Linked DNA regions of Homo sapiens. The protein of the gene in region 1 purifies or fractionates together with the protein of each later gene. This does not show direct contact. Each region holds a gene or a part of one and is shown on either strand. Other genes may lie near its edges.

Region 1 (5,599 bases):
TTATGTCAAACAATTATGCTTAATATAAAGTCTATTAAGTGGTAAGTCTTGTTTGAGATATTTTAAATTGCTTTCCATTGTTTTCAATATTTACTGTGACTTTTGTTTTCTGAGTTGATTAGAATGCTGTTCGAGTATACCTACCCTAGTTTCAGAAGCATAGATTGTAGTGTACCTTTTTAAACTTTATTTTTTTAAAAAAAGTTGTTTTATGAATCATACACTATTTTCACACTTTTAATCTCAGAAGAAACATATGTGACATGGTATTTTAGTAATGACCAAATAGACGGTCTTAGAGATTCAGTAAGTTCACTAAGGTCCACTAACTAATAAGTGACAAAACTGAGCATCCATCCTAGATCTGCCTGACTCTAAGTCAGTGACTTTGCTCCCATTCCATACTGTTTTTGTCATTGGATATCACCTGGCAAGTTTCTGCCTAACTAAAGAGAAGAAAAGTTTTTATCGTATTCATACTACTGTTCAATCTTTATTTAGAAATAAACTTTATCTATGATTTCATTTTCTTATAAACCAGTAATCTTGCTTTTCTGGGTAAATTTTCAGCTATTATTACTAATGCTCTGATCTGCCCAAATCTTAAGTAAAAAACAAAATTGAAAGAGCAACCTATGCCTTCTCATTGTCTCCTGAACATATAACTATCATTTCACAGAAAAGATTAATGGTCCTGATTAGGAATAGTACATAATTTTGATGGCATTATTAGTTAATTATTTTCTTTACATTGTAGTATATTTCCAGAGTCACCCATGCTTACATTTGTAATATATTTTCCTGATTTGAGAGTTTGTTTTTAGCAGTTTTTCTTACCTATACTGCACTGCTGAATCAGGAAAATTTAAGAAAAAGAATAGATTTAAATGTGTAATATCAAAGAGAAATATAGATGATCATTAAATTTTTAGAAATTTTGGGGAGTTAAGGAGAAGCATTGTTTGTTAAAAATATATAACCGATTCTTATATTTAAAATAGGTAATTTTTGCATAGTTGTGTTCTAAATATATTATAAACTAGTGCCAGTAACTCTAATAAAGCTAGTATTACTGCATATCACTGGTGGGATAGAATCTAAGGACAAAAACTCACAGTAGTAAAATCTAAAATTGCTTTCATGGTCTCAGGGTAAAATTATCCAATTTCTCTGACAAATAAATGGCTCAAAAAATAAGAGGAGTGAAGTTTACACAAGGAAAAATCTTAAGAGGTCTACCACTCAAATACAATGTGTGGATCTTTTTTGGATCTTGATTGAAACAACAGCAATGACTTTGAAAAACTTGGAAGAATTTGAATATAGATGGGTATTAAATAATGTTAACTTGATTTTTAGGTATGATAATGGCATTGTACTTAAGCATATTTTTAGAGTCATTTAAAGTCATGATGCTTTTAAAGAAATGTATAATGACGTATTTGTGGGAGAAAATTCAGTTTGTCTGGGATGTGAAAATGTTGAAGGGATAGAGTCAAGAATTATGGCAAAACATTGATAATAGTTGAAGCTAGTACTGAGTCCTTGGAGGATCATTATACTCCTCTCTTTTATGAGATTTGAAAAATTTCAAAATAATGTCTTTTAATTGATGCTGTTAGAAGTGGAGGTAATAAAAAAGGACATCCTTCCCAGAAACAAAATCACCACTGCTGTTACAGATATTGTCTCTATTTAGACAAACTCTCCAGCCTTTCCTTGTTCATTTCCTTTCATTATTGGACATAACCTCTCTACCTGAGATAGTCATGCTCCTGTATTCTTCTACCATTTGAATTTCGAGGTGTTTATCTAGTTATAGTAATGGATTTATGCTAGACTTATGATGGATTTATGCCATCAAGACTCAGTTACTTGATGGCATCAAATTGCTTTATACTTGGTATATACCTTATTTTTAAGGTTAATATCTATTTGCATTAGATTCCTCATGTTTAAGGTGGGGAATTCACAACAGCCCTATGTGGTAGGTACTGTTCTTATCCTCACTTTACAGAGGAGCAAACTAAAGCAGAGAGATTAAATAATTTGTTCGAGGTTCACAGCTACTAATTATTCCTATGGTTCATGGAAATAAAACTATAAAGATCTAAATGTTGTCCATGATAACTACAATTATATTTGAAATTCTTTTTGCCAAGCTAGACTATTACCTAAATATTTCCTTTCTGCCCAAAACTCAGTTATCATTGTTGAAAGACTAATGTGATTTCTCCTTTGGGCAGTTGTCTGCTCACTAAAGTCCGGCGATATTAACGGTGGTGTTGTAACCTTACATAGTCTCGGGGTGCATACAGGCAGAGTTGGGAATATTACATCCATTATCATTCCACAAAATGTAAGATCCTGTGAGGACGCGTGGTGGCGCTGCAGGATAAGAAGGCACAAACCAGAACCGCAGCTGCAGCTCCATTAACCGGCAAAAAGCAGCAGAACCTGGAAGTCCACGGGGAGCTTGGATGCCAAAGGGAGGACGGCTGGGTCCTCTGGAGAGGACTACTCACTGGCATATTTCTGAGGTATCTGTAGAATAACCACAGCCTCAGATACTGGGGACTTTACAGTCCCACAGAACCGTCCTCCCAGGAAGCTGAATCCAGCAAGAACAATGGAGGCCAGCGGGAAGCTCATTTGCAGACAAAGGCAAGTCCTTTTTTCCTTTCTCCTTTTGGGCTTATCTCTGGCGGGCGCGGCGGAACCTAGAAGCTATTCTGTGGTGGAGGAAACTGAGGGCAGCTCCTTTGTCACCAATTTAGCAAAGGACCTGGGTCTGGAGCAGAGGGAATTCTCCAGGCGGGGGGTTAGGGTTGTTTCCAGAGGGAACAAACTACATTTGCAGCTCAATCAGGAGACCGCGGATTTGTTGCTAAATGAGAAATTGGACCGTGAGGATCTGTGCGGTCACACAGAGCCCTGTGTGCTACGTTTCCAAGTGTTGCTAGAGAGTCCCTTCGAGTTTTTTCAAGCTGAGCTGCAAGTAATAGACATAAACGACCACTCTCCAGTATTTCTGGACAAACAAATGTTGGTGAAAGTATCAGAGAGCAGTCCTCCTGGGACTACGTTTCCTCTGAAGAATGCCGAAGACTTAGATGTAGGCCAAAACAATATTGAGAACTATATAATCAGCCCCAACTCCTATTTTCGGGTCCTCACCCGCAAACGCAGTGATGGCAGGAAATACCCAGAGCTGGTGCTGGACAAAGCGCTGGACCGAGAGGAAGAAGCTGAGCTCAGGTTAACACTCACAGCACTGGATGGTGGCTCTCCGCCCAGATCTGGCACTGCTCAGGTCTACATCGAAGTCCTGGATGTCAACGATAATGCCCCTGAATTTGAGCAGCCTTTCTATAGAGTGCAGATCTCTGAGGACAGTCCGGTAGGCTTCCTGGTTGTGAAGGTCTCTGCCACGGATGTAGACACAGGAGTCAACGGAGAGATTTCCTATTCACTTTTCCAAGCTTCAGAAGAGATTGGCAAAACCTTTAAGATCAATCCCTTGACAGGAGAAATTGAACTAAAAAAACAACTCGATTTCGAAAAACTTCAGTCCTATGAAGTCAATATTGAGGCAAGAGATGCTGGAACCTTTTCTGGAAAATGCACCGTTCTGATTCAAGTGATAGATGTGAACGACCATGCCCCAGAAGTTACCATGTCTGCATTTACCAGCCCAATACCTGAGAACGCGCCTGAAACTGTGGTTGCACTTTTCAGTGTTTCAGATCTTGATTCAGGAGAAAATGGGAAAATTAGTTGCTCCATTCAGGAGGATCTACCCTTCCTCCTGAAATCCGCGGAAAACTTTTACACCCTACTAACGGAGAGACCACTAGACAGAGAAAGCAGAGCGGAATACAACATCACTATCACTGTCACTGACTTGGGGACCCCTATGCTGATAACACAGCTCAATATGACCGTGCTGATCGCCGATGTCAATGACAACGCTCCCGCCTTCACCCAAACCTCCTACACCCTGTTCGTCCGCGAGAACAACAGCCCCGCCCTGCACATCCGCAGCGTCAGCGCTACAGACAGAGACTCAGGCACCAACGCCCAGGTCACCTACTCGCTGCTGCCGCCCCAGGACCCGCACCTGCCCCTCACATCCCTGGTCTCCATCAACGCGGACAACGGCCACCTGTTCGCCCTCAGGTCTCTGGACTACGAGGCCCTGCAGGGGTTCCAGTTCCGCGTGGGCGCTTCAGACCACGGCTCCCCGGCGCTGAGCAGCGAGGCGCTGGTGCGCGTGGTGGTGCTGGACGCCAACGACAACTCGCCCTTCGTGCTGTACCCGCTGCAGAACGGCTCCGCGCCCTGCACCGAGCTGGTGCCCCGGGCGGCCGAGCCGGGCTACCTGGTGACCAAGGTGGTGGCGGTGGACGGCGACTCGGGCCAGAACGCCTGGCTGTCGTACCAGCTGCTCAAGGCCACGGAGCTCGGTCTGTTCGGCGTGTGGGCGCACAATGGCGAGGTGCGCACCGCCAGGCTGCTGAGCGAGCGCGACGCGGCCAAGCACAGGCTGGTGGTGCTGGTCAAGGACAATGGCGAGCCTCCGCGCTCGGCCACCGCCACGCTGCACGTGCTCCTGGTGGACGGCTTCTCCCAGCCCTACCTGCCTCTCCCGGAGGCGGCCCCGACCCAGGCCCAGGCCGACTTGCTCACCGTCTACCTGGTGGTGGCGTTGGCCTCGGTGTCTTCGCTCTTCCTCTTTTCGGTGCTCCTGTTCGTGGCGGTGCGGCTGTGTAGGAGGAGCAGGGCGGCCTCGGTGGGTCGCTGCTTGGTGCCCGAGGGCCCCCTTCCAGGGCATCTTGTGGACATGAGCGGCACCAGGACCCTATCCCAGAGCTACCAGTATGAGGTGTGTCTGGCAGGAGGCTCAGGGACCAATGAGTTCAAGTTCCTGAAGCCGATTATCCCCAACTTCCCTCCCCAGTGCCCTGGGAAAGAAATACAAGGAAATTCTACCTTCCCCAATAACTTTGGGTTCAATATTCAGTGACCATAGTTGACTTTTACATTCCATAGGTATTTTATTTTGTGGCATTTCCATGCCAATGTTTATTTCCCCCAATTTGTGTGTATGTAATATTGTACGGATTTACTCTTGATTTTTCTCATGTTCTTTCTCCCTTTGTTTTAAAGTGAACATTTACCTTTATTCCTGGTTCTTAAAAGGTGACAATTCATTCTTTAACCCAGATGGTCTTAATTTGTAATTAATTTGCCTCCCTAAAGAGCAATACCAAATCACATTTTTTTCATGCCCCTATCTTTAGCTGAACTTCACCCACTATTATGCTTATGGTAAAATTAAATAGAGCAATTTGGAAGTGATTCCAATTTTCCAGCATTTCTTCATTTGATTCTCTTTTTTTAGTCTTAAAATAATGACTCCTATTCAGACATATCATTTTTCTTTTTTGTAAATCCAGTGCGTTTTTAGTTAACCTTTAAATATGCTTTTTGCTTTCAAAAATAAACCAGAAAACCTATATCCTATGATACAACTCTAAGTGTTATCACTTGATTCGAAAGGGTCAGAAGACCAGTTTTTTAGTATCCTTTCCTCATT
Region 2 (4,802 bases), on another chromosome or scaffold:
CCTGGGTGAAGGTTTAAATGACAGGTTTCTTTCCTGTTTGAGATGCTCTGCTTTTGACATCCCATGTCTGAAATTAGGAAACCAGAATGCATTCAAGTGACAGAGAGAAAAGAGGCTTTCCTTGACCCCCATATAAATTAGGTCCTCCTCTCTGATATTACTTCTCACAGCTGTGCTATTCAAAGTGTTCTGTGGGCCAGGAGTGTCAGTATTACTCGAAAGCTGCCAGAAATACAGAATGTTGGCCAGGTGCGGTGGCTCACGCTTGTAATCCCAGCACTTTGGGAGGCCCAGGCGGGCAGATCACAAGAGGTCAGGAGTTCAAGACCAGCCTGGTCAACATGGCGAAATCCCGTCTCTACTAAAAATACAAAAATTAGCCGGGGGTGGTGGTGGGCCCCTGTAGTCCCAGCTACTGGGGAGGCTGAGGTAGAGGAATTGCTCGAATCCAGGAGATGGAGGCTACAGTGAGCCGAGATTGCGCCACTGCACTCCAGCCTGGGTGACAGAGTGAGGCTCCATCTCAAAAAGAAAAAAATGCAGAATGTTAAACTCCCCCCAAATCTGCAGAATCAGAATTTGCATTTTAACGAGACTCCCAGGTGATTCATATGCACATTGAAGTTCTAACAGCACTACCTTAAAGCACTATGATTCTTTTCCTCCATAGCTCTTGCCACAACCTGCAATTCTAATTACACATTTATTTATATTTTTTAAATGGCTGCCTTAATGACTAAAGCATAAAATCCATAGGATGTCTTTTAGTGACTAACGTAGTTCCTACCACAGACCAGGTGCTCATTCAAGGTGTGCTGCATGAATGATTCTCTAGGACTTCCCGAACTGCTAGCAGCCTCTGCAATGATGGCTGTACCAGGTTTGCTATTCTAGCCTCTCTCACTGTCCCTGTATATGTCCCTGGGCAGCTTGATGAATTTGATGATTGTGGTAAGACATTTCAATGCAGATATTTTTCTTAGTGCATTTGCACATCATGCTAATCAATGGTCACGCTTGGCAGTAAGTTGTAAGTTGTTTATTAAATTTTAAAATGTTGTGTGTTGTCTCACAAGGGCAACATAAAGGGGAATTTTGTGATATCAAGTTTTCCTGCAAACTGCATGCATAACTGAAAGACTACAAAAACTTAGCTTTGTTAGGTTAAAAGCTTTCAACTAAGGCAACAAAGTCGTAGACTGTTACAGTAGGAAGGGCCTTCCAGGACAAGTTTGCCTCCCTTCCCCTGAGAAGGTAGGGCCCAAATGTTTAAGCTGACTTCCCCCATCTCCAGATTGGTGCTGTGCCAGGGCTTTGCCTTCAGGAGACCTCCTTGACTCACTACCAACCTCTTGCACTAGAGAAGAGATCCATTCATAAGAAAACAAGCTTTCAGCGGAAGGCAAATGACAGACCTCCCAGGGAAATGTTACAATAATAGGGGAACTCCAGATGGTCCTAGTGTTCATACAGAACACTAAGAAAATAAGCTGTGGGCGGCTGCTAATTTCTTGCTTTGGTAGAGGTTAGGAAGTTGGTTTTTTCGCATACACACGCTCACACCTCTCTAGGTCTTTACTAATATTTTAATTCAATGCAATACAGGAGATTCCAACCTGGGCAGGTCAAAAGATGAATAAAATACTTCATTCCTTATTGGCAGAATATTGTATGGGTGTCTCCATGGCTGGAGAGAAAGGGGAGGGACAATCAGGGTGTGAAACTTAGTGTCTGAAGAATTTATTAGGGGAAAAGAACTGTGCCTCTCTGCTTCTGTTAACTCCTTGTTGAGAGTCCTTGAACTAGAACCTCCCTTTAGTCACCTTCAATCCCCAGCCCAGGATTCCCTCCTTCAAAAGACAATCTGTTTCTATCAACCTCTTATTTGTGTAAATATTTATGTATATATTTATTACAGAATAAATAATATACTATGTAAATGTTTAAATATATAATATGCATTTGTATGTATACTACATGTGTATACATATTTGTATATTTAAATATAAACTTGTAATAAATCCATAAGGATGGGGACCCAATTTAATTATGTATGGTGTCCTCACAATGCTTGGCATATAAACACACAATTAATTCAGAATTTCCAACCACAGGAGACATAGAGATGTACCTTCCCAGGTATGTTTACAACATACGTTCACAGATGAATCAAACATGGAAAAAAAAAAAACACATCTACTTTTATGATATACTTGATTATTCTCATGTTGACCAGAAGGAAAAAAAAAGAAAAAAACACCCAAACATATGGAGGGGGGAAAAGCACCAGATTGGGAGTTGAGTCCTGGCTCTAGCCGAGTGTGATAGCTCACACCTGTAATCCCAGCACTTTGGGAGGCTGAGGCGGGTGGACCACAAGGTCAGGAGTTCGAGACCAACCTGGCCAATATGGTGAAACCCTGTGTCTACTAAAAATACAAAACTTAGCTGGGTGTGGTGGTGGGTGCCTGTAGTCCCAGCTACTCTGGAGACTGAGGCAGGAGAATCACCTGAACTGGGAGGCGGAGGTTGCAGTGAGCCAAGATAGTGCCACTGCACTCCAGCCTGGCAACAGAGCAAGACTCCTTTTTTTAATTAGCTGAGTGTAGTGGTGTGCACCTGTACTCCCAGCTACTCAGGAAGCTGAGGCAAGAGGATCGCTTGAACTCAGGAGGATGAAGCTGCAGTGACCCATGATCATACCACTGCACTCCAGCATGGGTGACAGAGTAAAACTTTGTCTAAAAAAAAAAAAAAAGTCCCAGCTCTGGTCCCTGATCTTCTATAAATTAACTATGTGGCCCTAGGCAAGTCATTTTATCTCACTCAACCCCGTGTCTCTTGCCTGTGGAACGGGGACAGTAATCCTCATCTTGCATTTCTAATAGATTGTCAAACAAATGGATAGAAAGCCCATTGGAAACTACATCAGTGAATTAATTTTTAAAATTCAGGTGGAGGATGAATTGTAAATTGCACAGTACTTTAAGGACAACAAAATGAAAAAGAAAAAAAAAAGTTGTTTCAACTGAATGTCACACCTCATGCTGCTTTTTTCTTTCTTTTCTTCCAGGACTCCATTCCCAACTCACCTGACAACGTCCCCCTCAAAGGAGGTAAGATCTTGGAATTAGGTGTAAATGTGTAGTAAGTCATCTAGATAAATGCCATAAAGTGTGAAACCTGATTATCAACCAGAAACAACTCTATGACATGACCCAACAGTAAAGTGGGTAGGGGTGGAGGCAAGGGCTGTTCAGGACTGAGCTGATGCACCTGAATTCATCTTAGCAGCTCCTGAACTCATCCCCACAAGTCTCCCACCAGCTCTTGACACTCCCACTAATGAAAATTCTACCTCTGGCATAGGCAGGACTGCAAGGCAGTGTTGTGTTAAATGCTTGAAACCTGAAATCAGATAAATGGGGGAATGAATCTTGGCTTGACTTCCCACTGGGGAGCCTCAACTCCTCATCTGTTAAATGGGAATAATAATAATACTCACCTCATCAAGGTATTGGAGAAGCCATTCAGATCTCATCTGTAAATTGCTTGGCATGGCAACCAGCACATAGTAATCATTAAATAACTAGTAATAGCTAAAATGCATAATGAAGTCAAGGACTTGTGAAAACAGACTTCCTCCTCACTCCTATATTTCCAATCATTGAAGTCACTAATTAACACGTCGTCTCTACTAGCCTCAGAGAGATGATATGCCGAGTTCAGTTAACATCGATGATGAGAAATTTTCAGATGACCTGATTAATGTTTTTATTGCTCAGAGAAGGAAAAGGAAGACCCAGAGAGGGAAAGTGAAGTATCTCGTCCAAGGTCATACAAAGCCAAGCCTAGAACCCAGAAAGATGTCCTCATCTCTGATACAGTGTCTTTTCTGCCCAAGAACACCAACTCCCATCTCAGTCCTGTAACCTTTAGAACCTAGATGGCAAACACAGCTGGATAGCCAGAAAGCTCAGAGCAAAAAGTAAGGAAGTGAGTTAATGTAGGCACCAGGGTAGTGGCACAAGAGTGTCCTTGAGACCAGAGGACACAGATGACTGGACACAGCTCCTCACACTCACAGCATCACACTTGGAGTGTCCTTCAAGTTTCCCTTGCCCATGCCTTTCCTGTGGTTTATCACCCAGAGACTTCAAAAATAGGGGCAAAAGTCCCCAAAAGACAGGGATTCTGGATCTTTCAAGGCAGACTAATAATCATAGCCTTGTCAACAATATCTCATTTTGGCTGGAATTACTTAGCATGTGACCTCAGTTCCTACCATGTCTATGTAAACAGTCACATTAATATTAAAAGGAGCATAGTAGAATGCAGGGGTAAGCAAACTTTTTCTACGAAGGGCCAGATAGTAAACGTTTAGGCTTTGGGGGTCACTATGTCTCTGTTGCAATTAGTCAGCTCTGCTGTTGTAGTGCTGAGCCAGGCTGACTACACGCAAATAAGTAACCACGGTTGCATTTCCATAAAACGTTATTTATCAAATGAGGTGGTGGGCTGGATTTGGCTTATGAATTGGAGGAGTCACTGCAGGCTTTGGAGACAGATGTTTCAGTTAAACATGTAATGCACGTTCACACGGAGCTTTGGAAAAACCAAAAGGCTCTGAGTGAATATAACTTGCCCCTCCCCACTCCCACTGTTCCACCACCACCTCCACCCAGACTTTCCAAGGAAGATGGAAACTTTTCATTTTTTGACAGGGAGAAGGGATTTTTAACATGAACACGGTCTCAGTGACGAGGATAGTTTTGATTAGGTAATAAGACCTTAGCCATTCT

What was found. Proteins that work in one complex are often made in the same cells at the same time.
Region 2: the proteins of PCDHB13 (region 1) and TNFSF8 purify together in Homo sapiens (co-immunoprecipitation; one large-scale study listed by IntAct). This does not show direct contact.

The regions. Positions count from the first base shown.
Region 1 is NC_000005.10:141,211,495-141,217,093, forward strand, and holds the start of PCDHB13 (protocadherin beta-13 precursor), read left to right. Parts: upstream 1-2,424; 5' UTR 2,425-2,629; coding exon 2,630-5,026; 3' UTR 5,027-5,599. UniProt on the Homo sapiens protein: Potential calcium-dependent cell-adhesion protein. May be involved in the establishment and maintenance of specific neuronal connections in the brain.
Region 2 is NC_000009.12:114,916,410-114,921,211, reverse strand, and holds part of TNFSF8 (tumor necrosis factor ligand superfamily member 8), read left to right. Parts: intron 1-3,073; coding exon 3,074-3,116; intron 3,117-4,802.